Linked DNA regions of Homo sapiens. The protein of the gene in region 6 purifies or fractionates together with the protein of the main gene of each other region. This does not show direct contact. Each region holds a gene or a part of one and is shown on either strand. Other genes may lie near its edges. The genes, in order: IPO7, EIF2B2, SLC29A1, TNPO3, PEX19, SIGLECL1 and EIF2B1.

What was found.
Region 1: the proteins of SIGLECL1 (region 6) and IPO7 purify together in Homo sapiens (co-immunoprecipitation; 3 studies listed by BioGRID and IntAct, with this or other methods). This does not show direct contact.
Region 2: the proteins of SIGLECL1 (region 6) and EIF2B2 purify together in Homo sapiens (co-immunoprecipitation; 3 studies listed by BioGRID and IntAct, with this or other methods). This does not show direct contact.
Region 3: the proteins of SIGLECL1 (region 6) and SLC29A1 purify together in Homo sapiens (co-immunoprecipitation; 3 studies listed by BioGRID and IntAct, with this or other methods). This does not show direct contact.
Region 4: the proteins of SIGLECL1 (region 6) and TNPO3 purify together in Homo sapiens (co-immunoprecipitation; 3 studies listed by BioGRID and IntAct, with this or other methods). This does not show direct contact.
Region 5: the proteins of SIGLECL1 (region 6) and PEX19 purify together in Homo sapiens (co-immunoprecipitation; 3 studies listed by BioGRID and IntAct, with this or other methods). This does not show direct contact.
Region 7: the proteins of SIGLECL1 (region 6) and EIF2B1 purify together in Homo sapiens (co-immunoprecipitation; 3 studies listed by BioGRID and IntAct, with this or other methods). This does not show direct contact.

Annotation. Positions count from the first base shown.
Region 1 is NC_000011.10:9,425,799-9,429,893, reverse strand, and holds part of IPO7 (importin-7), read right to left. Parts: intron 1,355-4,095; coding exon 1,265-1,354; intron 1,129-1,264; exon of another isoform or gene 940-1,128; intron 864-939; coding exon 698-863; intron 221-697; coding exon 60-220; intron 1-59. UniProt on the Homo sapiens protein: Functions in nuclear protein import, either by acting as autonomous nuclear transport receptor or as an adapter-like protein in association with the importin-beta subunit KPNB1.
Region 2 is NC_000014.9:75,005,326-75,009,393, forward strand, and holds part of EIF2B2 (translation initiation factor eIF2B subunit beta), read left to right. Parts: intron 1-540; coding exon 541-636; intron 637-1,251; coding exon 1,252-1,389; intron 1,390-2,396; coding exon 2,397-2,463; intron 2,464-3,705; coding exon 3,706-3,863; 3' UTR 3,864-4,068. UniProt on the Homo sapiens protein: Acts as a component of the translation initiation factor 2B (eIF2B) complex, which catalyzes the exchange of GDP for GTP on eukaryotic initiation factor 2 (eIF2) gamma subunit.
Region 3 is NC_000006.12:44,229,612-44,233,706, forward strand, and holds part of SLC29A1 (equilibrative nucleoside transporter 1), read left to right. Parts: coding exon 1-180; intron 181-295; coding exon 296-435; intron 436-735; coding exon 736-870; intron 871-956; coding exon 957-1,054; intron 1,055-1,199; coding exon 1,200-1,278; intron 1,279-1,752; coding exon 1,753-1,850; intron 1,851-2,386; coding exon 2,387-2,495; intron 2,496-2,731; coding exon 2,732-2,817; intron 2,818-3,195; coding exon 3,196-3,395; intron 3,396-3,805; coding exon 3,806-3,917; 3' UTR 3,918-4,095. UniProt on the Homo sapiens protein: Uniporter involved in the facilitative transport of nucleosides and nucleobases, and contributes to maintaining their cellular homeostasis. Functions as a Na(+)-independent transporter.
Region 4 is NC_000007.14:128,967,952-128,972,046, reverse strand, and holds part of TNPO3 (transportin-3), read left to right. Parts: intron 1-1,731; coding exon 1,732-1,899; intron 1,900-4,095. UniProt on the Homo sapiens protein: Importin, which transports target proteins into the nucleus. Specifically mediates the nuclear import of splicing factor serine/arginine (SR) proteins, such as RBM4, SFRS1 and SFRS2, by recognizing phosphorylated SR domains.
Region 5 is NC_000001.11:160,275,923-160,279,431, reverse strand, and holds the end of PEX19 (peroxisomal biogenesis factor 19), read left to right. Parts: 3' UTR 1-2,625; downstream 2,626-3,509. UniProt on the Homo sapiens protein: Necessary for early peroxisomal biogenesis. Acts both as a cytosolic chaperone and as an import receptor for peroxisomal membrane proteins (PMPs).
Region 6 is NC_000019.10:51,249,529-51,254,341, reverse strand, and holds the start of SIGLECL1 (SIGLEC family-like protein 1), read right to left. Parts: upstream 3,263-4,813; 5' UTR 2,797-3,262; intron 1-2,796.
Region 7 is NC_000012.12:123,626,798-123,630,892, forward strand, and holds part of EIF2B1 (translation initiation factor eIF2B subunit alpha), read right to left. Parts: intron 3,737-4,095; coding exon 3,600-3,736; intron 3,489-3,599; coding exon 3,372-3,488; intron 360-3,371; coding exon 247-359; intron 1-246.

The DNA.
Region 1 (4,095 bases), on a different chromosome or scaffold from region 6:
GGAACATACTGAGAGCTACATTAAAATGCTTGCAAATATGGTAGGTTCAAACAACATACCAAATGTTGTGTCATTTCTACTGCAATAGGAGTAACTTCTTCACTATATTCACAGATCATTTTCTGAATTACATTGGTAAGGTCATCATTTTCTGTTTCTCTTATAATGTGAAGAAGAGCCTGCATTACAGGTCTGATGAATGGTGTGATATATTCTTTAGCTGTAAGAGAAAGAGTAAAAAACTTGCGTAAAACCCCTAAAACTTCTTAAAACCTGATATAACAAATATCGATGAGTTTTTTAAAAAAGTACTTTCACATAAAAAGGAAGTATGCCAAGTTTCTAGGATTATGGCTTTTTACAATTAATATATATATATATATTTTATAAGAGGCAGGGTTTTGATCTGTTGCCCAGGCTGGAGGGTAGTGGCAATCGTAGCACACTGCAGCCTCGAACCGTCGGGCTCTAGTGATCCTGCTGCCTCAGACTCCCAAGTAGCTGGCACTACAGGTACATGCCACTATGTCCAGTTAATTTTTAAAAATTTTTTTTGTAGAGATGTTGCCCAGGCTGGTCTTGAACACCTGGCTTCAAGCGCTCTTCCCACCTAAGCCTACCGAAGTGCTAAGATTACAGGTGTGACCTACCGCACCTGGCCAACATTCACTTTTCTTGACATACAAAAATCCTTTACCTTTTTCTTGATTGCTGATCAATACTTGAAGGGCAATGGCAGCTTCCACTTTCACAGGCATTTCTCTATCATCAATCAGACATCTTCTTGTTAGCTCTAAGGCTGTTTGAAGGTTCTGATCACTTTTGAACTTCACTTCACAAAAATAGTGAAGTACCCAGCAAGCCTTTTGTAAAAACACAGTGAGTTACTGTAGATACCTTACCTTAAATTCCCCCAAGCTAATCTCTATTCCCTGAGTTCTGTGTGTGGGAATTTGGAGGCTGGCCAGTGGTAGATGTGTCCAGAGACAACACTAGACCAGTACTATGATCCCAAGTTACTCTTTGGCCGCATGATGTTTGTGTGGATAGCAAGATCTGAATGAAAAACACAGACAGACACTGCTACCAGACACAGATGAAACCTATGCACACATTACAGCAGCCATGTAAAGATTTACATTAAACAGAAACCTAAAATAAGACACAGGCTTCAAAGTGAACATTTAAAAGTTTCAATATAAAAGTCCACAGAGTCATTCATTACAAGACAAAAGTATATAAATAATGCAGCTTTAAAACATACCCTTGCTCTCATGTAGCCTAGTTCACTGCTGAAGAGAGGGAATACATGATTCTGCAACATGTATTCCATCTGATCTTTATAGATCTTTTTCTGTAAATATAAACAACAGTTATTTTGATACAGTTCCAAATATAATCATCTCAATTTCCAAACAGATATAACACTATTAAAAATGACTATTAATGTTACATATATTTATTCTCATTCTTTGAACCCCAGAATCCACAACCAATTTTCGTATTCCAGAACTTCACCACCAAAAACCACTAAACACATTTTCACGTTTTTATATTCCTTGATTAGAAAGCCATTATGCCAAATCTTACCAGCAATAGTGTTCGAATGATGTAAGTTTGGTTAATTTTATCTGTTACTATGAAACTTTTATAAGGAAAAAACTTGTCTGATAAAGTTTCTGGCTGAAAATAACATAACCTGAGAAAAATCCTGCTTTCAAACGAATAAACTGGCTATCTAAAAAGGCACACTCTTTTTTTTTTCTTTTTTTTTGAGACGGAGTCTTGCTGTGTTGCCCAGGCTGGAGTGCAGTGGCACAATTTCGGCTCACTGCAATGTCCACCTCCCAGATTCAAGTGATTCTCTAAAAAGGCACTCTCAGTATTCAAAGTGAGTATTTTCTAAGTGGAAAGAAGCTTTTTAGAAGAGTTCCTTAAACTGCACATTAAATCAACATTAAAAACATAAGACACTTATATATCAACACTTACATAATCAGACATGACAACTTAATGCAATGTGAGACCCTAGACTGGGTCATGGAACAGAAAAAAGGACATAGTGGGAAATCTTGTGAAACTTTAAAAAGGTCCATGGATTAGTTGATAGTAGCATACCAAAATCAACTTCATGTTTTTGATAACTTTGCCTACCTATGTAAGGTATTACCACTAAGTGAAGCTGAGTGAAAGGTAAGAATAGATAAACTTGAATTTGCCAAGAGAACTCACTAATTCTCAGCCTTCTATGCCACAAATGATTAGAATGTCTTTAATACATACTTTATAAACAAAGAGAAGGATGGGTGAACAGGTATAGAAAAGATGAAAGACGGCCGGGTGCAGTGATTCACGCCTGTAATCCCAGCATTTTGGGAAGCCGAGGCGGGTGGATCACCTGAGGTCAGGAGTTCGAGACCAGCCAGGCCAACATGGTGAAACCCCATCTCTACTGAAAATACAAAAATTAGCTGGTGTGGTGGCAGGTGTCTGCAGTCCCAGCTACTCGGGAGGCTGAGGCAGGAGAATCGCTTGAACTCAGGAGGTGGAGGTTGTAGTAAGCAGAGATCACGCCACTGCACTCCAACCTGTATAACAGAACGAGGCTCCATTTCCAAAAAACGAAAAGATAAAAGACACAATGACTAAATATTCTGTGAGTACTTAGTGCCTGGCTTTAGAATGTAAAGATTTCTAACAACTCAATTATAAAAAGACAAATAACCCAATTAAAAATGGGCAAGGGCCAGGCACAGTGGCTCACGCCTGTAATCCTGGCACTTTGGGAGGCTGAGGCAGGCGGATCACCTGAAGCCAGGAGTTTGAGACCAGCCTGGCCAACATGGCAAAACCCCATCTCTACTAAAAATACAAAAATTAGGCTGGGGGCAGGCACCTGAGGCATGAGAATCACTTGAACCCGGAAGGTAGAGGTTGCAGTGAGTCGAGATTGCGCCACTGCACTCCAGCATATGGCGGGGGGGCGGGGAGGCGGAAATCTCAGCTACTTGGGAGGCTGAGGCAGGAGAATCACTTTAATGTGGGAGACTGGTGGCTGCAGCGAGCCAAGATCTCACCACTGCACTCCAGCCTGGGTGACAGAGCAAGACTCCATCTCAAAAAATAAAAAGAAAAAAAACAAAGGCAAGCAATTTTTTTGGGGCAAGGAATTTGAATAGATATTCTCTAAAGAAAATATACAAACGGATAGTAAGCACATGAAAAATTTCAAAGCCACAAAGACATAATGCTTCACGTTCACTAGGATGGCTATAATCAAAATATACTGCTGGCAGAAATATAAAATGGTATAGCTACGTTGGAAAATGGGTTCTGCGGTGTCTCAAATTATGACAAGCAATTCATACTCCTAGGTATATACCCATGAAAAATGAAAACGTATGTCCACATAAAAATTTAAACATGAATGTTCACAGCAACATTTGTAAGCAGCCAGAAAGTAGAAACAACTAATGAATGAGTAAATAAAATGTGGTATATTAATATAATGAAATATAATTTGGCAACAAAAAGGAAAAAGTACTGAAACCTGCTATAACACAGATAATCCTTGAAAACATTACACTAAATGAAAGAAGTCACCCACAAAGAGCTACGTATTATATGATTCCATTTATATAAAATGTCCACAATAAACAAATCCATAGAAAAAATGTGGACTATAGGTAGCCTAGGGTTGGGAGATTTGGGGTGATATGTGGAGTGACTGCTAATGTATACAGAGTTCCTTCTGGGGGTGATAGTTATACAACTGTGAATAAACTAAAAACCACTGAGTTGTACACTCCATAAGGTTGTTATTTTTTATTTTTTTATTTTTTTTTGAGACGGAGTCTCTGTCGCCTGGACTGGAGCATGGAGTGCAGTGGCATGACCTCGGCTCACTGCAGCCTCCGCCTCCCAAGTTCAAGTGATTCTCCTGCCTCAGCCTCCTAAGTAGCTGGGATTACAGGTGCCCACCACCATGCCCAGCTGATTTTTTTTTTTTTTTTTGGAGACAGAGTCTCACTCTGTCGCCCAGGCTGGATTGCAGTGGCGTGATCTCGGCTCACTGCAAACTCCACGTCCCGGGTT
Region 2 (4,068 bases), on a different chromosome or scaffold from region 6:
AAGATAGCGCCACTGCACTCCAGCCTGGACGACAGAGCAAGACTCTGTCTCAAAAAAAAAAAAAAAGATGGCGAGCTGCTGGGTTCAAGGAAAGATAACTTGATTCTTTTAGGAATCAAAGCAGGGTAAATTACCTTGGGGATGACTAATGCTTGGTCTGACCTCACTTGATCCTAAGTAAATAATAGGTCTCAAAAAGGAAATATGTAAGGATGCAGGTTGTTTTAAAATAATGAGCCAGGAGCTATCTTGTCAGCAATCGTGATTATATTATACATGCATGTTGTATTTCCAGTTTTATGGCTGCTCTGGTGCTGCTGTGGAGCATTAGACATTTATTAGCTTCCCCTGGGCTTCCCTACAGCTTACCAGAGCTATGAGAGTCTGAAAAATCAGTTGTCCGAAAAATGAGTTATCTATTGGAAATTATGTGCTGGATATGCCCATATCACACAATTCCCCAGATCCAGTTACATTTGAGAGCACTTTTCACTATTTCTCACTCTTTCTCTTAGAATCAGCCTTTCCCTCCCATTGCAGGGTCATGAAATGGCTGTGAATTTGTCCAAAGCAGGTATTGAGACAACTGTCATGACTGATGCTGCCATTTTTGCCGTTATGTCAAGAGTCAACAAGGTGGGTATATCTGGAGTTATGTTGAATTCATGAAGATTATGTTTCTAAAATATTGATTTTTATCTCCTCCTGTAATATCCACGGTGAGAGAATAAAGTTTCTAGCACCTTTCAAAGTACATACTTAGGCCTTTTTAATCTGTTAACTGAATTTCTTTTCCCTTTTTTCTGCATCATTGTTCCTCTCTTGGAGTAGCCTCTAAATTTGGTTGAAGCATTGAAAAGAATGAAGTATTAAATAGAACTAAGGCAAGAGTGTCAGTTTCTAGGGATTGGCTACAGGGCTCCTGCCTTATGCTCAAAGAGCTTGGCAGTTGTGGATAGTGAATGAAAAAGATTCCTGGCTTCTCAGAAGGTATGGCATCTCAATTTCCAGAAAATATGGGACTGAGAGCAGTAGGTTTTGCAGTTTCTTGTCCCATTTTACATTCATTCTTTCCTTGGAAACCTACTTTTAAGCTAGAACTTGTATTGAGCCAGGGATCCCTTCACCTCTACCAGTCTGTGACCCCTCACGATACCAATTCTGAGGTCTAAGCATTTAGCTTTTTGTGGCCAGTGGCCCTTTTAGGGCTCCACCCCCAGGATGGCTCACATTTTTTGTCTTGTCCCAAAGGTGATCATTGGCACGAAGACCATCCTGGCCAATGGGGCCCTGAGAGCTGTGACAGGAACTCACACTCTGGCACTGGCAGCAAAACACCATTCCACCCCACTCATCGTCTGTGCACCTATGTTCAAACTTTCTCCACAGGTAAGTGTGTCTGTCTCTAGCTAGAAGCCAGCAGAAAAGAAGGAAGCCAAAGGGTAGGCTTGAACTCTGGGACTTCAACCACCTCACTCCAGGGCCTCCATTTATCTGCATTTACTCAATGGATTACACCCAGTGGAGGCTGGAAAGAACCACAGAAGTCTTGATTCAGTAAAACAGTTGAGAGTTCTCAGCTGTCAACTTTAGGAAGTCAAGATTGTAAGGACAATATGTAGTTGGGAAAGGTCCTTTGCTTACGATTGCCACCACTCCCTGTCGCCTGACCATTTCTGAAAATGCCAAGCAGGTTGAAAGTAGGATCATAGAATCAGTTTTGTTATTGTTGCAGGGCCTGTCCTTTGTAACCTGAATACAAGCAAGGACTAAGTGAAGAGCCATTTCATCAGTGATAGAAGCTATTTGCTTTGAAAACATCAACCTATTTATAGGTCTCTATTTTTTAAATTGAGGTGAAATTCACATAACATACAATTAACCATTTTAAAGTATACAATTTAGTGATATCTAGTACATTCACAGCATTGTACAACCACCACTCTCTAGTTTCAAAACTTTTTCTCCACTGTAGAAAAACACCCTGTACCCATTAAGTAATCTCTCCCTATTTGTCCTTCTCCCCATCTCCTCCAATCTGCTCCTGTCTCTATGGATTTGCCCATTTTGTATAAAAGGAATCATATAATATGTGACATGTTGTGCCTGACTTTTTTCACTTAGCATGATGTTTTCAAAGTTCATCCATGTTGTAATGTCAGAATTTCCTTTCGAGGCTGAATAATATTCCATTATATGAACATACCACAATTTATTAATCCATTCATCTGTTTATGGGCATTTGGGTTGGTTCCAGCTTTTGGCTTTTGTGAATAATGCTGCTATAAGCATCTGTGTATAAGTTTTCTGTGTGGACATATGTTTTCATCTCTAGGGTACATACCTAGGAGTGGAATTGCTGGGTCTCTAGTTTTTATAAATTTTTTCCTTTTTAGTTCCCCAATGAAGAAGACTCATTTCATAAGTTTGTGGCTCCTGAAGAAGTCCTGCCATTCACAGAAGGTACAGAAGCTGTGTGTGCATGCGTGCATGTGTTGTGTGTATTCGGGGTTTGTGTGTGCATGTGTTTTGGTCTTTTTGTTGTTTTGTTGGTCAGTAGAACTGAATGCTGTCAAGTTGTGTTTTTTATCATACTTCTTGTGGGGACTGTTTTCTTTAGAAGCTCAAAGTGCTTGAGGACCTGACCAAGTCCATGTTAATTTGTTCTGAGACAAATATATTTTAGATTTGTTGGGGCTATTGTGGGTTGGATCATTTAGCATTGTCTGGGTTTGGCTTTGCATGCTGTTTGAGATATAGACAACAACCAGTTGGGAAAATGTACCTGTTTTCCTGCTATAAGGAGTCATTTTGGTGAATTGACTCCCAAAGGAAGCAGGTTGTGAAATGTTCCTCCTTAGAAAACTCACCTGTAGCCTGGATAGTCTCATGTCTTGGGGTTCTTTTCTCTGGCTTCTTCTGAAGGCAGCAGCTCAGCTCATTACGCGTGCAGCCTCATCAGCAAGGGTGGCCTTACACACCATCTGAGAGCAACGCATAGTAGTTGGTTGGGGTCCTAGTTCCTCTTGGAAGTTGATTGACTTCATCCCTTTATTTAAATAAACATTCAATCTTCAAGAAATAGTTATTGAGCACCTACAATGTATCCAGCACTCTTCTAGGCACTGAAGATAAAACAATGAATGAAAAAGATAAGGCCCTGTTCCCACACATTCTATTGTGGAAGACAGATGAGAAAGTATCAGGTCATGGGATGCCTGAGGACAAGCAAGGCTGATGTGGTAGAAAGTGGCTAGGGGCCTGAGATTGAGGAAGGGTCTTAATGAGATGACATTTCAGCTGAGTCCTGAATGAACAGAGTCCACCATATGAAGATCATAGTTTTCTATGAGCTGGTGCAGGGGCTTAGCCAGTTAGAAAAGGATGGCCATACATGGCTAGACAGTAATGAGCAAGGGGGAGAGTGGTCCAAATTGTAATTCATGTGGTGTGTCAGGGAGGGCCCAGATCTTAAACTTCAATCCTGAGTTTGAATTTTATTCTGAGGGCTGTGCAGAGGCATGGGAGAGTTGTAAGCAGGGATTGTCATGATCTGAAGTCATCTCTTCTGGTTTGCATTTTTCCATAGCTTCCCGTCCTTGGGGAGCTAATATGCCTGCATTCTCGAGCCTGGAATCTATATGCTACTTAATTATGAGAGAGGGAGCCTCAGTTTTACCTTTAGCATGTGTGCTTGCCTTTCAGGGGACATTCTGGAGAAGGTCAGCGTGCATTGCCCTGTGTTTGACTACGTTCCCCCAGAGCTCATTACCCTCTTTATCTCCAACATTGGTGGGAATGCACCTTCCTACATCTACCGCCTGATGAGTGAACTCTACCATCCTGATGATCATGTTTTATGACCGACCACACGTGTCCTAAGCAGATTGCTTAGGCAGATACAGAATGAAGAGGAGACTTGAGTGTTGCTGCTGAAGCACATCCTTGCAATGTGGGAGTGCACAGGAGTCCACCTAAAAAAAAAATCCTTGATACTGTTGCCTGCCTTTTTAGTCACCCCGTAACAAGGGCACACATCCAGGACTGTGTCTTGCCTTTCAGATCTTA
Region 3 (4,095 bases), on a different chromosome or scaffold from region 6:
GTCCCAGAATGTGTCCTTGGTCACTGCTGAACTGAGCAAGGACGCCCAGGCGTCAGCCGCCCCTGCAGCACCCTTGCCTGAGCGGAACTCTCTCAGTGCCATCTTCAACAATGTCATGACCCTATGTGCCATGCTGCCCCTGCTGTTATTCACCTACCTCAACTCCTTCCTGCATCAGAGGTGAGTGCCCACCCCCTCCCCAGCCCCCAGCCTGACCCTCACTGTGTCCTGCACCCCCTTGGCTGAGCCCCAGCTTTGCCCACTTGTCTCTGCCACCCTTGGCCTCTCCCGGCAGGATCCCCCAGTCCGTACGGATCCTGGGCAGCCTGGTGGCCATCCTGCTGGTGTTTCTGATCACTGCCATCCTGGTGAAGGTGCAGCTGGATGCTCTGCCCTTCTTTGTCATCACCATGATCAAGATCGTGCTCATTAATTGTAAGCTGGGCCAGGAGGGGGCCTATGGGAGGAGGCATGCCCAACTACCCCCACTCTTTTTTCAGACCCAGCGTTAGCCAGAGAGAAGCCCAGCCTCCGCCTGGAGGGAGTGGATGCTGTGAGCAGCTGGGATTCAGAGGCCTGAGTGGGCCTGGACCAGGGCTGGGAGGGGGCAGAGAGAAGGGCAGCTCAGCCTCAAGGCTCACCAAGAGTAAAGTAGGAATGACAGGGATCTGTCTTCTTGGGCACCCCCAACCACCAGCCCTAGCTCCCCTGCTCATGCCCGCCCTGTTTCCCCAGCATTTGGTGCCATCCTGCAGGGCAGCCTGTTTGGTCTGGCTGGCCTTCTGCCTGCCAGCTACACGGCCCCCATCATGAGTGGCCAGGGCCTAGCAGGCTTCTTTGCCTCCGTGGCCATGATCTGCGCTATTGCCAGTAAGTCCGGCTATCTACCTGCCCAGTGCCCTGGTGTGGTGGGGAGAGGGGATGGGGCCTGTCTCTGATCACTGACACCACCCCAGGTGGCTCGGAGCTATCAGAAAGTGCCTTCGGCTACTTTATCACAGCCTGTGCTGTTATCATTTTGACCATCATCTGTTACCTGGGCCTGCCCCGCCTGGTGAGTAAATGGAGGGAGCTGGGGTTTGGGGTATAGGGGTCTGGGGTTCCAGACCACGGGTGTTCTGAGGACAAAACCTGAAGGAGGCCGGGATTCTGGAGATTCTGCCTCTAAATCCACCTCCCCCGTCTCCCTTACTTGATAGGAATTCTACCGCTACTACCAGCAGCTCAAGCTTGAAGGACCCGGGGAGCAGGAGACCAAGTTGGACCTCATTAGCAAAGGTCCGAAGAGCCTGAGGAAGCTGGGGTGGAGGATGGTATACCAGGCGGGGGATAGCATGAGCAAAGAGAACAAAGATGAGTGCCCTGTGTTAGCTAGCAGCCCTGAGCCAGAGGAGGACTGAAGGACTACAGCAGGGAGAGGGGGACAATAGGAAATAAGGGCCGGCAATGATAAAATGGGGGCAGATCCTGGATGACCTTGAATGCCTGAGGTGTTTGGACTAAAGGCAGTGGGAAGCAATTTCAGATTCTTGAGTGAGGAGTAACATGACCTGAGGCTCCTGGGAGAGGCCAGGCCCCCGGGTCTTGAGTTGTAGGGATTTGGAGGCGAGGTCTGGGTTAGGGTTAGAGTACGGCTGGGACTGGTTAAGGAGGCGTCTACTTTCAAGTAATCCCAGCCGTTTTGGGGAATGTTTATGTTGTCTTCTGTTGCTCTGTCTTCCCCACAACTTGGAGATTTCTTCCATCCCGCAGGAGAGGAGCCAAGAGCAGGCAAAGAGGAATCTGGAGTTTCAGTCTCCAACTCTCAGCCCACCAATGAAAGCCACTCTATCAAAGCCATCCTGAAAAATGTACGTAGGGGAGGTTATCCTATCTTCTACCCCTTGTCCTCTTTCTCTCCTCCTTTTGCTCCCTCCCCCTGCCACCCATCTCCTCCCTTTCTGACCTGAGAGTGGTCACTCCTGGATTCTTTTGTGTGTGCGTGCGTGCCCATGCGTGCGTGCCGGGGGTGGGGATTCGTGGTTCCTTTTTTTTGAGACAGAGTTTCACACTTGTTGCCCAGGCTGGAGTGCAATGGTGCAATCTCCACTCGCTGCAACCTCCATCTCCTGGGTTCAAGTGATTCTCCTGCCTCAGCCTCCCAAGTAGCTGAGATTACAGGCATATGCCACCATGCCCGGCTAATTTTTTGTATTTAGTAGAGATGGGGTTTCACCAGGTCAAGCTGGTCTCAAACTCCTGACCTCAGGTGATCCACCCACCTCGGCCTCCCAAAGTGCTGAGATTACAGGCGTGAGCCACCACGCCTGGCCTGGATTCGTGGTTCTTTAATGCACAGCCACCATGAAGACACAGGCATTTGGGTGACTCTACCCCTTCTATCTAGATCTCAGTCCTGGCTTTCTCTGTCTGCTTCATCTTCACTATCACCATTGGGATGTTTCCAGCCGTGACTGTTGAGGTCAAGTCCAGCATCGCAGGCAGCAGCACCTGGGGTGAGGATGCCACAGGTTTCCAGGATGGGAACAGACAGGATCTTGAGTTGGGCTGGAAGTGGGGAAGGGAGGGAGCCTGGGTCACCTTCTCCCCGTTTCCTGGGTCCATTTGCCCTTCCCTGGGCTGGAAGCATCTTCTCCATTTTACTGTTGGGGAAGCTGAGGCCCAGTGAAGGTTAGGCTTGCTATACCTGCCTCTGTGAGCCTGATAACCACCCGTTCATCTCCTCTTCCAGAACGTTACTTCATTCCTGTGTCCTGTTTCTTGACTTTCAATATCTTTGACTGGTTGGGCCGGAGCCTCACAGCTGTATTCATGTGGGTAAGTGGAGGAAGAGGGCCCCAGGCCCCTGTGGGAAGTAAGAGTCCAGCCTGGACCCAGAGAGGGAACCCAAGAAAGTATGGTAGTAAGGGGACCATTTGTTTTAAAGTCGAGGCATAATTTATGTATAGTTAAGTACAAGTCTTAAGTGTACAACTTAATGAATATATGTATATACACATACCTGCCCAGATCGAGATGTAGAATATTTCCAGCACTCCAGAAGGCTCCACCATGCCCCTTTCAAGAGTAACCCCCTAAGGAGAACCAGGCTTTGAGGTTTCAGTTCAGATCCTGAGGGGCCCCAGATGGATCCTTGGGGGCCTGGCTGTGCCCTGGGGTGGCGGCCTGGGCTGAGGCCCTGCCTGGTGCCCACAGCCTGGGAAGGACAGCCGCTGGCTGCCAAGCCTGGTGCTGGCCCGGCTGGTGTTTGTGCCACTGCTGCTGCTGTGCAACATTAAGCCCCGCCGCTACCTGACTGTGGTCTTCGAGCACGATGCCTGGTTCATCTTCTTCATGGCTGCCTTTGCCTTCTCCAACGGCTACCTCGCCAGCCTCTGCATGTGCTTCGGGCCCAAGTGAGTAGGGCTGGCAGGGAACTTGGTGGCATCAGACAGGATCTAGAGTTCCAGTGGGGGACACTCAGTAGAGGGAGGGCAAAAGGAGAGTCCCTGCTCCCAGAGCTGAGAGGAGAGATGGCTCAGGAGGGGCTCCCAGGCTGAGGGGATAGTGACTGTAGTGGAGGGGGGCGCCAAGCTTACTTGGGTGGAGGTGGAGACAGGTTTGCAGGAAGGAGTGAAAGACAACCCCACCATACACGTTCCCTCAAGGAGGAGAAGCCAGGTTGGGGTTAGGCAGCCAGGATGGGTTGATCAACAGAATGAGGTTCGACAGTCAAGTTGCTCCACCCCACCCCTCCTTCCACCCAGAGGCTCTGGGCTGGGGTACAGCCATTCTGAGGTAGCCTTGCCCTTCCTTCCCCGCTTAGGAAAGTGAAGCCAGCTGAGGCAGAGACCGCAGGAGCCATCATGGCCTTCTTCCTGTGTCTGGGTCTGGCACTGGGGGCTGTTTTCTCCTTCCTGTTCCGGGCAATTGTGTGACAAAGGATGGACAGAAGGACTGCCTGCCTCCCTCCCTGTCTGCCTCCTGCCCCTTCCTTCTGCCAGGGGTGATCCTGAGTGGTCTGGCGGTTTTTTCTTCTAACTGACTTCTGCTTTCCACGGCGTGTGCTGGGCCCGGATCTCCAGGCCCTGGGGAGGGAGCCTCTGGACGGACAGT
Region 4 (4,095 bases), on a different chromosome or scaffold from region 6:
GTAGCCAGGACTACAGACATTCAACACCATGCCTGGCTAGTTTTTATATTTTTTGTAGAGATGGCATTTCACCATGTTGCCCAGGTTGGTCTTGAACTCCTGGCCTCAAGTGATCCTCCCACCTTGGCCTCCAGTATTTGATTGTCAGATGAGTGATAAAAGTCATGATTGGTATGAGATCAGACGAGGGAAAGCTCTAGACCAAAAAGAGTTGGAATAACTTTATGGAAGGGGAGGGATTTAAATGAAGCCATGAATTAGAGGTAGAATTTTGATGGATTAGAGAGGCAGATAGTCATACTGCCTCTAAGCCAAGATCAGAGCAAGTCAGAATAGTACTAAGTTTGTTAGTAGACAACTAAGCAGTGGGAGTAGTAAAGTGCTTCACAGGAATTTCGAAGGTAGGTTTGATTAGATGTGGAGTAGAATTGTAGACAGGGGAGAGCAGTGAAGAAGTAAGTATTCTGCATTCTATTTAGGCTATTCATTTAAGAAGTTTGGCAGTAAAAGAGAGAAGAAAATAACTAGAAGGGAAAGGCAATTTAAAAAATATTTTTCTCAAGGTATTAGAAATACATGTGTATTTAAAGACCACAAGAAGGGCCAGGCGCAGTGGCTCACGCCTGTAATCCCAGCACTTTGGGAGGCCAAGGCGTGCAGATCACTTGAGGTCAGGAGTTCAAGACCAGCCTGGCCAACATGGTGAAACCCTGTCTCTACTAAAAATACAAAAATTAGCCAAGTGTGGTAGTGTATGCCTGTAATCCCAGTTTCTAGGGAGGCTGAGGCAGGAGAATTGCTTGAACCCAGGGGATGGAGGTTTCAGTTAGCTAAGATCAGGCCACTGCACTCCAGCCTGGGTGACAGAGCAAGACGCTGTCTCAGAAAAAAAAAAATTAAAGACCGCAAGAAGAAAAAAAGGGTTTTTTTTTTTTCGATAGAAAAAATTAGATCTCTGATAGACGTCTTCAATTCTAATTTCAGTTGGTTTTGTTTTGTTTTGTTTTGTTGTGACTTGGGGTTCCGGCTGTGTTACCCAGACAGACTGTAGTGGCCATTCACAGGCGAGATCCCACTACAGATCAGAATGGAATTTTGACCCACTCTGTTTCTGACTTGGGCTGTTCACCCCTCCCTCCTTAGGCAACCCAGGAGTGGTTCCTCACTCCTGGGAGGTCACCACATTGATGCTGAACTTAGTACAGGCACCCAATTGGTATAGCATGCTCTAGCCCAGAACACTGGGTTCAAGCTGTTCCCCTACCTGCGCCTTTGGAGTGGCTGGGACTATGGTGTGTGCTGCCATGCCAGGCTGACTTAGTTTTTAAAAAAGGAAATAGGAACACAAGTTATTTTTCACATTAAAAAAAAATTAATACCATCACATAGAAGATGAAGAGAAAAAAATTTTAAAAATTGCTAACTTTAATTCTTAACCATGTTTTCTGCCTTCAAATCATGAAAAATCTAAGCATTAATCTCTGTTGAAACCCATGTTCATTCCTTGGATACTAATAAACTCCTTCATTTTCTTTCTAAAGACAAAAAACTTCTGGACTTTGTGAATCCAGCTGTCATTTTACACACACCTGCATACACACACACACAGCCACGCGTGCACACACACACACACTTTCCTATTAAAGAGAAATTACTAAAGGGGAAAGAGTGCTTGGTCTTTGGGAAGTTGAGACTAGAATTTATCTGATGTTCCTGCTTTCCTACATACAGCATGAAGAAGACTTTGAATTACGGAAAGAACTGATTGGACAGGTGATGAACCAGCTTGGACAGCAGCTTGTCAGCCAGCTGCTGCACACCTGCTGCTTTTGCCTCCCCCCCTATACCCTACCAGATGTGGCTGAAGTGCTCTGGGAGATCATGCAGGTTGACAGACCGGTAAGATTGTTTTCATGAGGAATTTATCTCATAGTCCCTAAATGTAATAGGCTTTGGTTCCTTAAGGCCAACCCTAATTTTGAAACTAGCCCTGTTTTCTGTCCATGGAACCAAATTTAGGCATATTGCCAAATTAGATTGGTAGATGAAGAGGCCCGTAAAGATCAGTAATTTATTATTGAGTTCTTTAAAGCATGTTTCTATGTCACTGTCATAGGGGGTATATTACCAGAAGTAAGTATCAAGCATTGAATTCAGTTGTGTGGCTGTCCAATGTGAAATTTGTTCACTTGTGAGAGATGCCCAAATGTCAGTTATATTAGTTACGTATTACTCAAGAAGTATTTAATCCTTTCAGACTTATTCTATAGCACTGTATTATTTCTTGGTGATACATCTAGCCAGAACATTTGGAAGCACATAATTGTCAAAGTAACCCACAATGTACAGTTGGATATATTTCCCCTTTGGATTTCTTTGAACCAGATCCTTTATCACCCACCTAAGGATGGAGTTGTTTTTTTAAAGCTATCTAATAATGCCCAAGTAATTTCAGTACTGGGCCACATGACCATAACTCAGGTTATGTGTACTGTGTGAAAGTTGAGTAGAATGGTAAAGTATAATATAACCTGAAATCATTTTTAAAATGGAATTTATAATTTTTAATATTACTGTAAAAGCAGTTCAGGAAAGTACTCATTGGGACCTAGTTAAAGTGAGCTGTCTTACAGAACCACAGAATATAAAATTGATAATAATAATATATAACAGATAGTACCTATTCCTCTCTGGTTCAATACACATGTTCCATTTCAACCTGATAGAGTAGCATATTTGTTTTTCTAAAGAAAAGTACTTTTTGAGCCTCCAGGAATCAGCAAATTTAATTCAAAAGTCCTTGACCTGAGGGAAAAAGTCTTCATACTCTGCTTAAACTTTTTTACAAATACATTTGGTTCCCAAGTAACAGAAAACTTATGTAAATCTAACTTTATGAAAACATTCTTGATTGTAAGCATATTGTTAAGTGCGAACAACAACAACAAAAAATGAGAACAAGAAGTTTGGACAGGAATAGAAACCAGGTAGCCATGTACTCTAAGGAGTGTACTGTATATCAGCCAGACACAATGGCTCATGCCTGTCTTCCCAATACTTTGGGAGACCAAGGCAGGAGGATCACTTGACGCCAGGAGCTTGAGACTACCAGCCTGGGCAACATAGACCCCATCCCTACAAAAAAAAAAAAAATTTTTTTTCTTTTTAATTAGCTGGGTGTGGTGGCATACATCTATAGTCCCAGCTACTCAGGAGGGTGAGGTAGGAGGATTGCTTAAGCCCAGGAGTTCCAGCCTGCAGTGAGCTATGATCATGCCACTGCACTCCAGTCTGAGCTGCATAGCAAGACCCTGTCTCAAAAAAGAAAAAGTTTGCTATATAACAACTATTATGTATTTTTAAGAATTAAGGAGCTGTTATGTATCCATAATTAAGAAATGCTTAGTACTTCATGAGCATTTATAATACTTTTGCTCTGGCCTATTATGGCCATAAATGAATATGATGGGAAAATATATAATGTAAAAAAAATTAGGTATAAAAGAGTAATTTTACAGCCCAAAACTATGACTGAAGTATACATTCCACTTAAGAAAGGGATGAAGAAATATTAGTGCTGACCCAAAGGACAACAATTAAACTGAAAATAAGAACCCAGAGGAAGTCTGTAGAATTTTTATTTTAGAAAGGAAGGAAGTAAAGGGAGTAGACAATTTTTGTGCATAGAAAAGGCATAAAGAGAATTCTTAGATATACTTATATAAAAAATATATAAGTAAATTAAACAGCAACAAGAGCAAGGTTTTTTAACACAAAGAACAGGCAGATATCACAAAGGAACTGAATGGATAGGACTTATTCTGAGAGAGATGGCCTTAAAATCCTTAAGATTCTGGACTCATATGTCTCATATGTATACTTTCTGACATGGTGGCTTAGTATACTTTTTGCCCCTGCTCTTTCAGGTATCTGAACCTTTACTCTGGATCACTTTTGATCTTTAAGCTCAAGAGTTTTTGGAAATCTGTTTAATTTTAAAAATATACTGGTCAAGTGCTTACACCTGTAGTTCCAGCACTTTGGGAGGATCTCTTGAGCCCAGGAGTTTGAGACCAGTCTGGGCAACATAGAAAG
Region 5 (3,509 bases), on a different chromosome or scaffold from region 6:
ATCCCATTCAAGATTGTGCCATACCAGCTGAGGTTTTTCCTCTGTCTCTCTAGGAATAGGGTCTGTTTCACAGGCCATTTCTGTGAACCCTACTCCATTGTGGTTTCTGCCACTATCAAAGTTCCAGCTACCTGCAAGGTGAAGGAAGGCATCCCTTTTGGGGCATGCACTTTCTTTCCTTTCTCAAAATAATGTTATATGTGGCCACACTGATGTTCACCTTTACGTCCAGGGTCTTTGTGCCTTGTCTCTACTCCCTCTCTTGGATCTGGGGAGGAGGGGCAGAGACCTGGGACTCTGTATTTCTATAGTTCTCCTGGCAGAGCCTTTGAGAATGGGGAGAAACAGCCTGGGCTGGGGCTACAGGTCTGTCACTATGCTCTCTTGCCTTCAGACAGACCATTCTGAATTCTCTAAAGGGAAAGGGCTTTTGCATCTAATCACAATAGAGTTGAAAGAGAGGCCTTAGGATTCTCCTCTCTCTAGGTGCTGAGCCCTCACCTCCCTGTTCCAGGCTGAGAACTCAAATGGTTACCCTGCTTCTTCCTACAATGCTGTGTGATATGGGTGAACCCAGCCCCTGACCTTCCTCTATCCCCTGCCCATCCTCCCTTTTACCTCCTCTCTTTTTTAAACACCTGTTTATCCCAACCTTTTTGAGCTCAAGCTGTGATAAAGAAGGGCCCATCCTATTTCCCCTCATCTAGTCCATTTACGATTCTCACTGACTCCCCGTCTTCCTGGCAGACACAAATAAACCCAGTGTCAGGTCTAGGAAATTAATGGCTATTCTTCCCCAGATACATTCTGGCTTATTTGAGATACATGATTCTCTTAGAATCCTGTCCCTTGGTTCAGGAAAGTAGCTTGGAAAAGGAGTAGGGGTATAGCTTGGGTCCCTTTTCCTGCAAGGCCCCATGGGGCAGAATATAATAAATATTCTGAGTGAGGAGTGTGGTCTTTTTCTGATCTTCCTCAGCTTCCGTAAGTTGCAGAGTGAGGTATATTAGGAGACTAGTTCTACACAATATTGTAATGCTGGGTTCCATCAACACCCACCTTCCACAACTCAGTCTGCACCTCAGTTGGCAAAGGAGACTGGATGGCCATCTTTCCTCATGTTCCCTTGAGTATTTCAATGTAGAAAGCCCTTCAAGTGGTATTATATTTTAACCTTTTACATTATTGTTATTAATGTTAGTAATATATTGTTATGTTTTCTAAATTATTTTTCTTTAAGCTGACGTGGCTTTTTTTCTGTGGCTCCCAGTGGGTCTACGGACCTTGGCTGACATATGTTGGTAGGTACTCTGGTCAGCTCAGCTGGCTGTCCTGGTTCACTCAGAAGATAAGTCTCTCCAAAGCAAATTCACATGCATTATGAGTCGCTTTGAGCTTCTGACATGTCACTTGCCCCGAGGTTAAAACTTTTCACCCCTTGAAGACCTTACATGTTTTATGGTATTGGTGAGGAAGGAAATGTTCTCAAGGTCTCAGGCTATTTGGGAAATTCCAACTCCTATACCTTACCAGAGCATGGAAGAGCCCAGATCTGAATGTAAAACGTCTCTGTTCTGCCAGAGATGGAAAAAATACAGGTATACTTGTGATATAGTCATGGGGCTTCAGTGTCACTATTTTCTCCTTAAAGCTCCAGCCAAAAACTGGACAAGGATAGAGAGGAGGAGGGAAGAACAAAAGAGCCCTTCTCTATGAACCTTGTGCCTTCTGTCCTACCAGTTTTCTTTTACAGATTCTCACTTCTGCTAGCCTAGCCAGGGCTTACTCCAGGAATCTAAATAGATGCCCTAGTCCACTTTATCTTTGTTCCCAAGGCACTCATTTTTATTTTGATTTTGATTGAATGTGAGCAGGTTGACCTCAGGTCACACTTTGTTCCAAAAACTTTTGGAATTATTCCAGGACTTGTGGTGGAGTTATGGTACTCTAGGGCAGTCTTTCTCAAACTATGTATGGTAAAGGACCAGGTTTTTTGTTTTCCAGTCCTTCACTTATCAATATGCATTCCTATTGCCCATGACAGGTATGGAGTTCACACTGTGTGCTGCCGACCCGGCAAGTTTGACAGCACCCAAACTGGCCAGACTGTTCTGTAGGTTAAGTCCATTGATCATGTACTTGGATATCACAGCAACATTGAAATGCTAAAAAGTTTTTAAACACTCTCAATTTCTAATTCACCATGTCACAGACTGGTGAAAAAAAAAAAAAGGTGTTCACTGACCAGCACAAGTCTGCAGATCATCTTTGAGTAGCACTGTTTTGGGGCCCTCGGTCTCTCTGAAGACCCTAGCAGAACTGATACCTACCTGTATCTCTTGTTCTCTCCTATTTGAGTTTCACTTCCAGAGAACTTGTTCTTCAGCAAGAATGTGTCACTAGTAAGGACATCTCTAGCATTTCTCTAGCCTTCCTTTTCTGCTGCTCAAAAATAATCGTTACAAAGCTTAGGTTTAAGCTGTATATGAAATATTTATGCGACTCTCAAACTTTAAAGGAGTTGCTCCTTTGTTCCAAAATTAAATGTGTTAGATAAATTTGTGATTGTATGGGTGGCTTCATGAATTAAGAATTGAATTAATACAGACTTTTTGATAATTGGGACATTTTCCTGTGACTCTGGAAGGTCTTGTCAAAGCCCCATGAGGCAGTTATAATATGATGTTAAGATGGCTTTGGGGAGCTAGGAGAAAACATTGGCCCATATTGAATGACGTGGAGACGGCAGACCATACAAAAAAGGACCAAAAGACTTAGAGGAAATGGGTATGCAAGAATGAATGTTATATAACACTGGTAAACCCACCAGCTGACTACCCCAGAAAGACCTGGGAATTATTTTTTAATAAAGACAATGGGAAAGGCACTGATGAAGGGTTACCAGCATCTTTGAGAAATTTAGAAGTGGCTGTCTCTCTAGATCGAAGCTGATACAAGATGTAAAAGAAACTGTTTTCCTAGTAGCAGTGGGGGAATGATAGGATCCTGACATAGCAGAGGCCAGGTGGCAACACTTAACTCTCAGAAGCAAGGTGAGTAAATTTCCTTAAGGGTAGCAAGGTCAAAGTGGAGATGGCTAACGGAATGTGAGTGGTCCTAGGAGCAGGATAGATGGGCAACCAAGAAGAGTATTGTCTTATATATAAGGGAGATCAAGAATGGTTGAACAGAAGGCTGAAGTCAGAAACTTCAAAGAAAAGTCCCCATTTCTTGTCCAGTTTTTAAGCCTGAGATAGTTCTTAGACTCATAAACTATCAATGGAAAGAGACATTTATCAGTTAATCATTGAGTGGAAAAGCACTGTTCATCCTCTGTTCTCACACCACAATGAGTGACACAGAACTCTTCTGTAATCACGTGTGGAATTCCCTCCCCTCAACAAGCAAGCAATTCTGCAGTGGATAACAGCTGGATATCCTCTAATTTACTTTAATTCTGACACTGTCTACCTGGAGACAGTGTCAGATCCCACAGGTTGACCAATCAA
Region 6 (4,813 bases):
TTTTTTTTTTAAAGAGATGGAGTCTCACCCTGTCACCCTGGCTGGTGTGCAGTGGTACAATCACAGCTATCTACAGCCTCGAACTCCTGAGCTCAAGTAGTCCTCCCACATCAGTCTCTCGAGTAGCTGGGACTTTAAGGGCACACTACTAGACCCAATTCATTTAAAAAAAATATTTTCTGTAGAGAGAGAGTCGAGTCTTGCTATATTGCCCAGGCTGGTTTTGAACTCCTGGGCTTAAGCAATTCTCCCGCCTCAGCCTCCCAAAGTGCTAGGATTACAGGCATGAGCCACTGTGCCCTGCTGTGAATCAATTGGGAATGACTGAATCATGCCATGACTGTTAACTACTTTTTTGGTTAACATCTAATGAGAAACTATGGTTGCCATTTACAACTCTAGAGACGTAGAAATTTTATCTTTTATCTTAGTCTCAACAACTCTGTGAGGTACATCTCATTATCAACACTTCCAAAAGGAAGGCAGAGATCCACAAAAGTACTATGACTGGCCCCAAGACATGCAGCCGTTACGTTCATAGATTTCAGACTCAACCTTTGACTACAACTGTGGTGTCTTTTTCATGATTCTATTTTGCCTTAAAAACTGCTGTATAAGCATGGTGAAGTTCATTCTCCTCTCCAAATTCACTTCCTCATGAATAAAATATAAGAATAAATCAGCTAGCCCTGATGTGACACACAGTATACTTAGATTTTTCCTGGAAGTGGACCAGAAGTCAGAAGACCTAATCTTTGTCGCTACTTCCTGGGTGATTCTGGGTAAGTCACTTCCCTCACTGTCAGCCTGCTTCAGAGACTAAAAACAATCATAAATGAATTTTGTTTGGCCTACAAATGCTTACTTTTTAAAACTAACTTTTAAAATGGGATAACATTTAATAATCAGAGCACTTCACAAAAAATTCAAACAACCAGCTTCTCTCTCTCTCTTTTTTTTAAATTTTAAATTCAAGTCAAACTGCCTAGATATGAAGGTTAGCTGTTTTATAGTGTGCAAGTAGCTTCACCTCTCTCTAGGCCTACTTGCTCATTTTAAAAACATGGATAATAATAGCACCCATCTTAGAGTTGTTGTTAAGATTAAATGAGTCAGTAGAACAGAACCTCACATTTGGTAAGCAATCAAAAAATGTTAGTTACTATGTATTAGGTTCCCTGCTTAGCTCCTATCAGCATTTAACTTGGAACCACTTTTTTTTTGTTTTTTTTTAACACAGGGTCTGGAGTGCAGTGGCATGAACATGGCTCACTGCAGCCTCGACTTTCCAGGCTCAAGTGATCCTCCCACCTCAGCCTCCAGAGTAGCTGGGACTATAAGCACAAGCCACCAGGTCCAGCTAATGAAAAAATTTTTTTTGTAGAGACAGAGTCTCACTATGTTACCCAGGCTGGTCTCGAACTCCTGGGCTCAAGCAGTCTTCTCACCTCAGCCTCCCAAAGTGCTGGGATTGCAGCCGTGAACCAACACACTCAGCCTGGGACCACTCTTGACCACCCCTAATCCCTTCCCAGAGTTCTGGAACCAGCCCTGTCCTTTCCTATTCCATATTTCGGCATGTTTTAACAGACCTCTCTGAGTGGTCTGTGCTCCCAACCCTTAGCCTCCAGACTGATTGCCCTTTTTCCTTCTCACATAAAAAAGATATCGCCCAAGTTTCCAGGTCGTTAAATGCCTCTCTCATTCACGCCACATATCCACTTTCTTTTTGCATTGTCAATTTTTTTTTCCTTCCCCTTTCTTCTGTTTAAAAGCCCATGTTAGATGGTCGGAATGAGCCTTGTCTAGGTCCTGGGCCAGGATTTGCCAGTAAAGCACTGAATAACTGTGGTCAAGTATTTTCCCTCTTCTTATTTCCTCATGTGTAACATGAGTGGGTTTTACTGCTGGAGATGTAATGATCCATTTAAGTACAAAATTCTGATTTCTTCTTTCTTCTCTCCATCAGTTTTAGAGCATACATGTGATGACTCGTCATGCACCCATTATATTTTCTTTTTCTTTTCTTTTCTTTTTTTTTTTTTGAGACAGAGTCTCGCTGTGTTGCCCAGGCTGGAGTGCAGTGGCACGATCTTGGCTCACTGCAACCTCTGCCTACGGGGTTCAAGTGATTCTCCTGCCTCAGCCTCCCGAGTAGCTGGGACTACAGGCACGGGCCACGATGCCCATCTAATTTTTGTATTTTTGGAAGAGACGGGGTTTCACCATGTTGGCCAGGCTGGTCTTGAACTCCTGACCTCAAGTGATCCCCGGCCTCAGCCTCCCAAAGTGCTGGGATTACAGACGTGAGCCACTGCGCCCAGCCTATTTTCCTTGACCACCATGTCTCTCAATTTTCCTTCACCATCATGTCTCTCAATTTTCCTTCTGTCTCTTGTTCCAAAGGGCTCAGGATATTCTCTGTTCTCAGCACACTTCCATCTGTGTATTTCCTTAGCAGGGTGTGAGTGATGCAAAGGTGTTCGGCTTTCTAAGGGAAGGGCTGACTTACTAATGACTGACCTATTTATGGTGAGGAAAACGATTTTCTAGGGAAAGCCAGGATAACTAACAATGAAACTGATAGACACACATGGGATAACTGTGTGAGTAATGACTGGGTGCCTTGCAGGGGTGTAACTTACCAAGAGACCGACTTAGCGGGAGCCTAACTAACCAATGAACAGGGCAGGTTCTGAAGGGAGTGGATTTTCTCATGAACTGATTTTCAAAGGGACTAACCGTTGACTCATAAGGGCACTGACCTGATTGTGAACCCACGGGCCGCTTGCTTACCTTCTTGGTAGATGGATGTCGCCCCAGCTGCCCTCTGGCTGACCAGGTGACTGACGTGGTGGAGGCTGAGGAACGCTGGCTCCTGGCGAACTCCCTGACTATGCTTAATCTCACCGCCTGACTGTTCAGATTTAGCCTCTGTCTGACCAAAGGGCTCTCAGGGGCCTCACTGGCACGAGAGCCGCCCTGGTGGCCTAACCGACCTGCGGCTGCCCCACGGCCCAAGGATCCGCTGACTGACGCTGACTGGAAGCCCAGTTAGTGCAGTTTCAATGAAGGAACCCAACAACCGCCAACAACTGCCAGGGACCCAACAACCGCCAGAACCCAACAACTGCCAGGGACGCCAACAGGCCAGGCACAGCCTTATGCGACTAGGGATCCTCAGTCGGCTGCACAGAGATAGCGGCGTGAGGGGCGTGATAGCCGCTGCAAGACCTGCTAGCTCGCATCCTTAGGTGAGTGCATCCACCCGCAGCCAATCAGCGGCTGCATGGGCTTACTTTACACAGCCAATCAGAGGCTGCATGTGCTTATTTTACAACCAATGAGAGGCTGCATGGGCTTATGTTGCAGCCAATCAGAGGCTGCATGGGCTTATTTTATAGCCAATCAGAGGCTGCATGAGCTTTTTCTACAGCCAATCAATGAAGCAGAAGCATTGTGCCCACAGGCGTGTGCCCCTGGGAGCTGATGCACGGCTGCCAGAGTCAATCAGGAACTGCAACTGCAACTCCCTCCTCCAACCTTTGTGCCCAATTGGATCTTGAGGGCTTGAGCCAATCCGCAGCTGGGGGCGGTGCCAGGGTAGTTTGTGGGCCAATTTTCTTCCCAGCAAGGCCTTTCCAGCCCGTGCTGATGAAACCACACTCCTCTCCAACCCTGAGGACTCCGTTCCTCTTGTTTAACCCTGTTTATTTTTTCTCACACTTTATCCGTCACGCACTTTCTTACCCATTACACTTTCAAAATGACAGAGGCATTTGAGCCAGAGCAACTCCGTCTTGAATAGGAGCTGGGTAAAATGAGGCTGAGACCTGCTGGGCTGCATTCCCAGAGGGCTAAGGCATTCTAAGTTACAGGATGATATAGGCGGTCAGCACAAGATACAGGTCATAAAGACCTTGCTGATAAAACAGGTTGCAGTAAAGAAACCAGCCAAGGCTGGGCTCGGTGACTCACGCCTGTAATCCCAGCACTTTGGGAGGCTGAGGCGGGCGGATTACCTGAGGTCAGGAGTTTGAGACCAGCCTGCCAACATGGCGAAACCCTGTCTACTAAAAATACAAAAATTAGCTGGGCGTGGTGGCAGGCACCTGTAACCCCAGCTACTTGGGAGGTTGAGGCAGGAGAATCGCTTGAATCCGCGAGGTGGAAGTTGCAGTGAGCCGAGATTGCACCACTGCACTCCAGCCTGGGCAACAGAGTGAGACTCTGACTCAAAAGGAAAAAAAAAAAAAAGAAGCCAGCCAAATCCCACCAAAACCAAGATGACAATGAGAGTGACCTCTGGTAATCCTCACTGCTACACTCCTACCAGCACCATGACGGTTCACAAATGCCATGGCAACGTCAGGAAGTTACACTATATGGTCTAAAAAGGGGAGGCATGAATAATTCACCCTTTCTTTAGCATGTCATCAAGAAATAACCATAAAAATGGGCAACCAGCAGCCCTCGGGGCTGCTCTATGAAGTAATCATTCTTTTATTCTTTTACTTTCTTAATAAACTTGCTTCCACGTTACTCTATGGAATAGCCCTGAATTCTTTCTTGCAAGAGATACAAGAATCCTCTCTTGGGGTCTGGATCAGAACCCCTTTCCTGTAACAAAAACACTTTGTGCTAAATATCATTTGCTAATGGTATTTTTGTTTATGGTTTGACTGTGCCACTAGAATAGAAGCTCACTTTTTGGTTTTGTTTTATGGTACATGGGAGACCTCCACTCCCTATTACAACAGTCTCCACCTCCCTGTTGCAGCAGTTCCCCTTCCACTGCTGCAAAGATTCTTCT
Region 7 (4,095 bases), on a different chromosome or scaffold from region 6:
CTTCATCAATACAATCTCTGCTCTTCCACGGAGTTAACTACTTAAGTGAAACCCCTAGATCATATACTGCGGCCTGCTGCAAATTCAGTGATTTTTCTTCCAAAGGCAGGAAAAGGTACAATGAAAGGCAGTGCTGACTGCTGGCAAGCTGGGGGCACATTCTGGTTCTGATCCTGTTGGACTGTAATCCGCAGTTTGCTCTGTAAAATTATGGCTGGGCACATAACTGAACAGAAAGGTACTTGCCCTGACAAATCAGGCTGTGACTCTGTGACGTATACACTAAATCGCTTCTTGGCCGCCACGGCTGCTTCCAGGACTCTCAGGACCACTCTGGAGTAGGCGTGAGTCAATATTGTCTGTGGACCGAGAAAGCTTTGTCAAAGGGGCAGGCTCCTTGCTGCTCACTCACACCCTCTGCACTGCGGCACGTGTTCCCGACACCCTAAGCATCTCTGTACACTTTCTCACAAATCAACCACAACCAGAAAGGAGACCTGATGGTACAGTTTCCATCCCATGTGCAAGCTAAAAAAGTTTCTGCCAGGTCTCACATCCTGTAGCAGGTGCAGAAATGGAACTCCCACACAGTGTTACCCAAAGGATACAAAAGCCTGGATAGCTGAAGGCTCCATGAGGTTCCCTTGGGTTGGTTTTCCTATTTCTAAGACATGGTTTGCACACGCAGGCCTACAGGAACCAAGTAGGTAGCAGAAGTCACTGCAGCAGGTTGGGTGGGGCCAGCAGCAAAGCGAAAGGCTACAGAAGGCTGGGTGTGGTGGCTCACGCCTGTAATCCCAGCATTTTGGGAGGCCAAGGTGAGAGGACTGCCTGAGCCCAGGAGTTCAAAACCAGTCTGGGCAACTTGGCAAGACCTCATCTCTACAAAAAATAACAACAAAAAAAATTAGCTGGATGCAGTGGCATGTGCCTATAGTCCCAGCTACTTGGGAGGCCGAGGTGGGAGGATCACTTGAGCCTGGGAGGTTGAGGCTGCAGTGAGCCATAATCATGCCAGTGCACTCTAGTCTGGGCAAGAGAGTGAGACTCTGTCTCAAAAAGAAAAGGCTAAGGAGGGCCAGGACTCCTCAGCCCCAGCTGGCGTCATGTGGCCCCAAGATTGCCAGACCAGGTGATGTTTCAAAAATCCAATTTTGAAATGATGGCTAACTAATTTTTTTGAATTTATAAACACTGTTTGGGGTAATCACAACCTATCTGTGGCGTGGATGCAATGTGTAGACACTTAGACATAATCTGTTTTCTTTTCTTTCTTGAGCCAAGGTCTTGCTCTGATGCCTAGGCTGGAGTGCAGTGCAGTGTTCATGGCTCACTGTAGCCTCGACATCCTGGGCTCAAACGATCCTCCCACCTCAGCCACCCCAGTAGCTGGGACTACAGATGTGCGCCACTGTGACTAGCTAATTTATTTTATTTTTTGTAGAGACAGGGCCTCTCTCCCTATGTTGCTCAGGCTAGTGTTGAATTCCTGGCCTCAAGGGAACCTCCGGCTAGGATTATACACATAAGCCACCACAGTAGGCCCATAACCTCTTTTTTTTTTTTTTTTTTTTTTTTTGGTGAGACAGGATCTCACTCCAATTGCCCAGGCTGAAGTGCAGTGGTATGATCTCAGCTCACTGCAGCCTCAACTTCCTGGGTTCAGGTGATTCTCCCACCTGAGCCTCCCAAGTAGCTGGGACCACAGGAGTGTGCCACCACGCCTGGCTAACTTTTTGTATTTTTAGTAGAGATGAAGTTTTGCCATGTTGCCCGGGCTGGTCTTGAACTCCTGGACTCAAGCAATCTGCGTGTCTTGGCTTTCCAAAGTGCTGGGATTACAGGCATGAGCCACCATGCCCAGCCTCCATAACCTCTTTTCTATGGAAGAGTGCAGAAGACAGAATAAGACAAGGGGGCAGAACCAGCTCTCTAGCTCCTTTCTGGGTCTCACCTGAGAACCCGTTAGGAAGGCAGGTTCGTGGACCCTAGCCCAAACCCACTGAATCCCGATCTGCATTTAATAAGACCCCAGCTGACTCCTCTGCATGTGCAAATCTGAGCAGCTCTGCTATAAATTTTGTCTAAATCAGTCCTGAGTAGGTGACTGCAGGTAAAGTACATACATACCACACTACACTAGAGCAAACGAAACCCGCACAATACTGACGGCACAGCAGGTCTGTGGAAGGAGAAGGCCCCAGCGAGAGGAAGTCACAACCTTGCCTCCACTTGCCCAAAAAAGGCTTCGTTTGCAACTGGCTTTTCTACAAGTTTCACTCACATCTATTATGCCATTTATTTAATAACATACTTCAAAGGTTGGGAAGGGGCTAATAAAATGGAGGACAAGATTTAAGAGTCAAAATGCAAGTAAATGATTTTATGATCAGGGGAGGCCTAGGTGGCAAAAGGACGTATGCTGGTGGGAGGGGCATTATGATAGTTTCATTACACCTTTACTGGAAGATGGTTCAACTTGCACCTCCTGTCTTTCCTCACTTATAAACACTGCGTGGCTTTACATCTCTGTAATAGCATCTAAAATGAAGTTAAAAAGAAAATTTCCCTCAATTTCCCTCTATTGCTAACCTTCACTAAGAAAGTCCTCAGTGTTAACCAGTGACAAGAGCTGTTCTGTTAATTCAGATTTACTACACATACAATCATAAAAATACTTCTTTAGTAAAACACTGTATTAAATCAAGAATCAGGGCCAGGTGCGGTGGCTCACGCCTGTAATCCCAGCACTTTGGGAGGCCGAAGCGGGTGGATCACAAGGTCAGGAGATCGAGACCATCCTGGCTAACACAGTGAAACCCCGTCTCTACTAAAAATAAAAAAAATTAGCTGGGCTTGCTGGTGGGCACCTGTAGTCCCAGCTACTCGGGAGGCTGAGGCAGGAGAATGGTGTGAACCCAGGAGGCGGAGCTTGCAGTGAGCTGAGATCGCGCCACTGCACTCCAGCCTGGGTGACAGAGCAAGACTCCGTCTCAAAATAAATAAATAAATAAATAAAATAAATCAAGAATCACACGTGCTGTCCCACTGTCCCTCTCTGCCTGTTTACAATGACAACCATCTCTAATAACAAGACCTACATTCATGCAGCACTTACTAAGTGCCAGGCACAATACCAAGCCCTCACACCCCTTGCCCCTTACATGTCTTGCCTCATTTAATCCTCACAACAACCCAAGGAGGTAGGTACTATTGTCATCCTTATTTAACAGATGAGAAAGCTGCACAGACAGGTTAAGTTACTTGTTCAAGTCTCCACAGCAAGTGAGTGGCAGAGCCCGGATTTTACCCCAGGCAGTCGGACTCGAAACCGTTGCTCCTCCTTACCACCATGATGATTATCCACTCACCGCTCCATCTTTGATGAAAGTATGGCACAGATCTGCAATTTTGTTTCTTGACAGTGATATTCTCCTGAGAAAAAGTTCTCCCCGCTCAATCATGATCTTTTTACATTTGGAGTAATCCTAGGAAGAAAAGAGCAAACTGAGGGGACAGGGAAGATCCAGTTAATGCTGAGAATGTCTGTCACTAAACAGAGAAGTGGAAAGGTAACCCCAGGGAGAACAGGCACTTACGGAGTATTCCAGGGAGGCAAGACTGATGAAGCGGAGGAAGAGCTCCCCGCCAGAGGACACTGCCACAGAGGAGTCCACACCACACAGGGTTTCTATGGCACTGGTGAGATTCGCCCTCAGACCCTGGATTGTCTCCCCTGGAATGATCCAACAAGGAATGTGATGTTCACATTAGGGCCACAGCCCCGACCTGTATCTTCAATTCATTCATTCATTCAGTGAATATTTACTAGGTACATACTATATACCAGGCACTATTCTAGATGCTAGGGATACATCAGTGAACAAGACAGGTAGGGTTCTGCTGTGATGGAGTTTTGATTGTAATAGAGGAAGCGGATAGTAAACAAGCACACATAGAAATAAAGCTGGGTGGCTGGGCATGGTGGCTCACGCCTGTAATCTCAGCACTTTGGGAGGCTGAGGCATGGAAAGACATTAAGTAGCAGCGGCAGATGAGGTCTGCAAGGTGGTATGGGTGAGGCTAAGGTTGTTT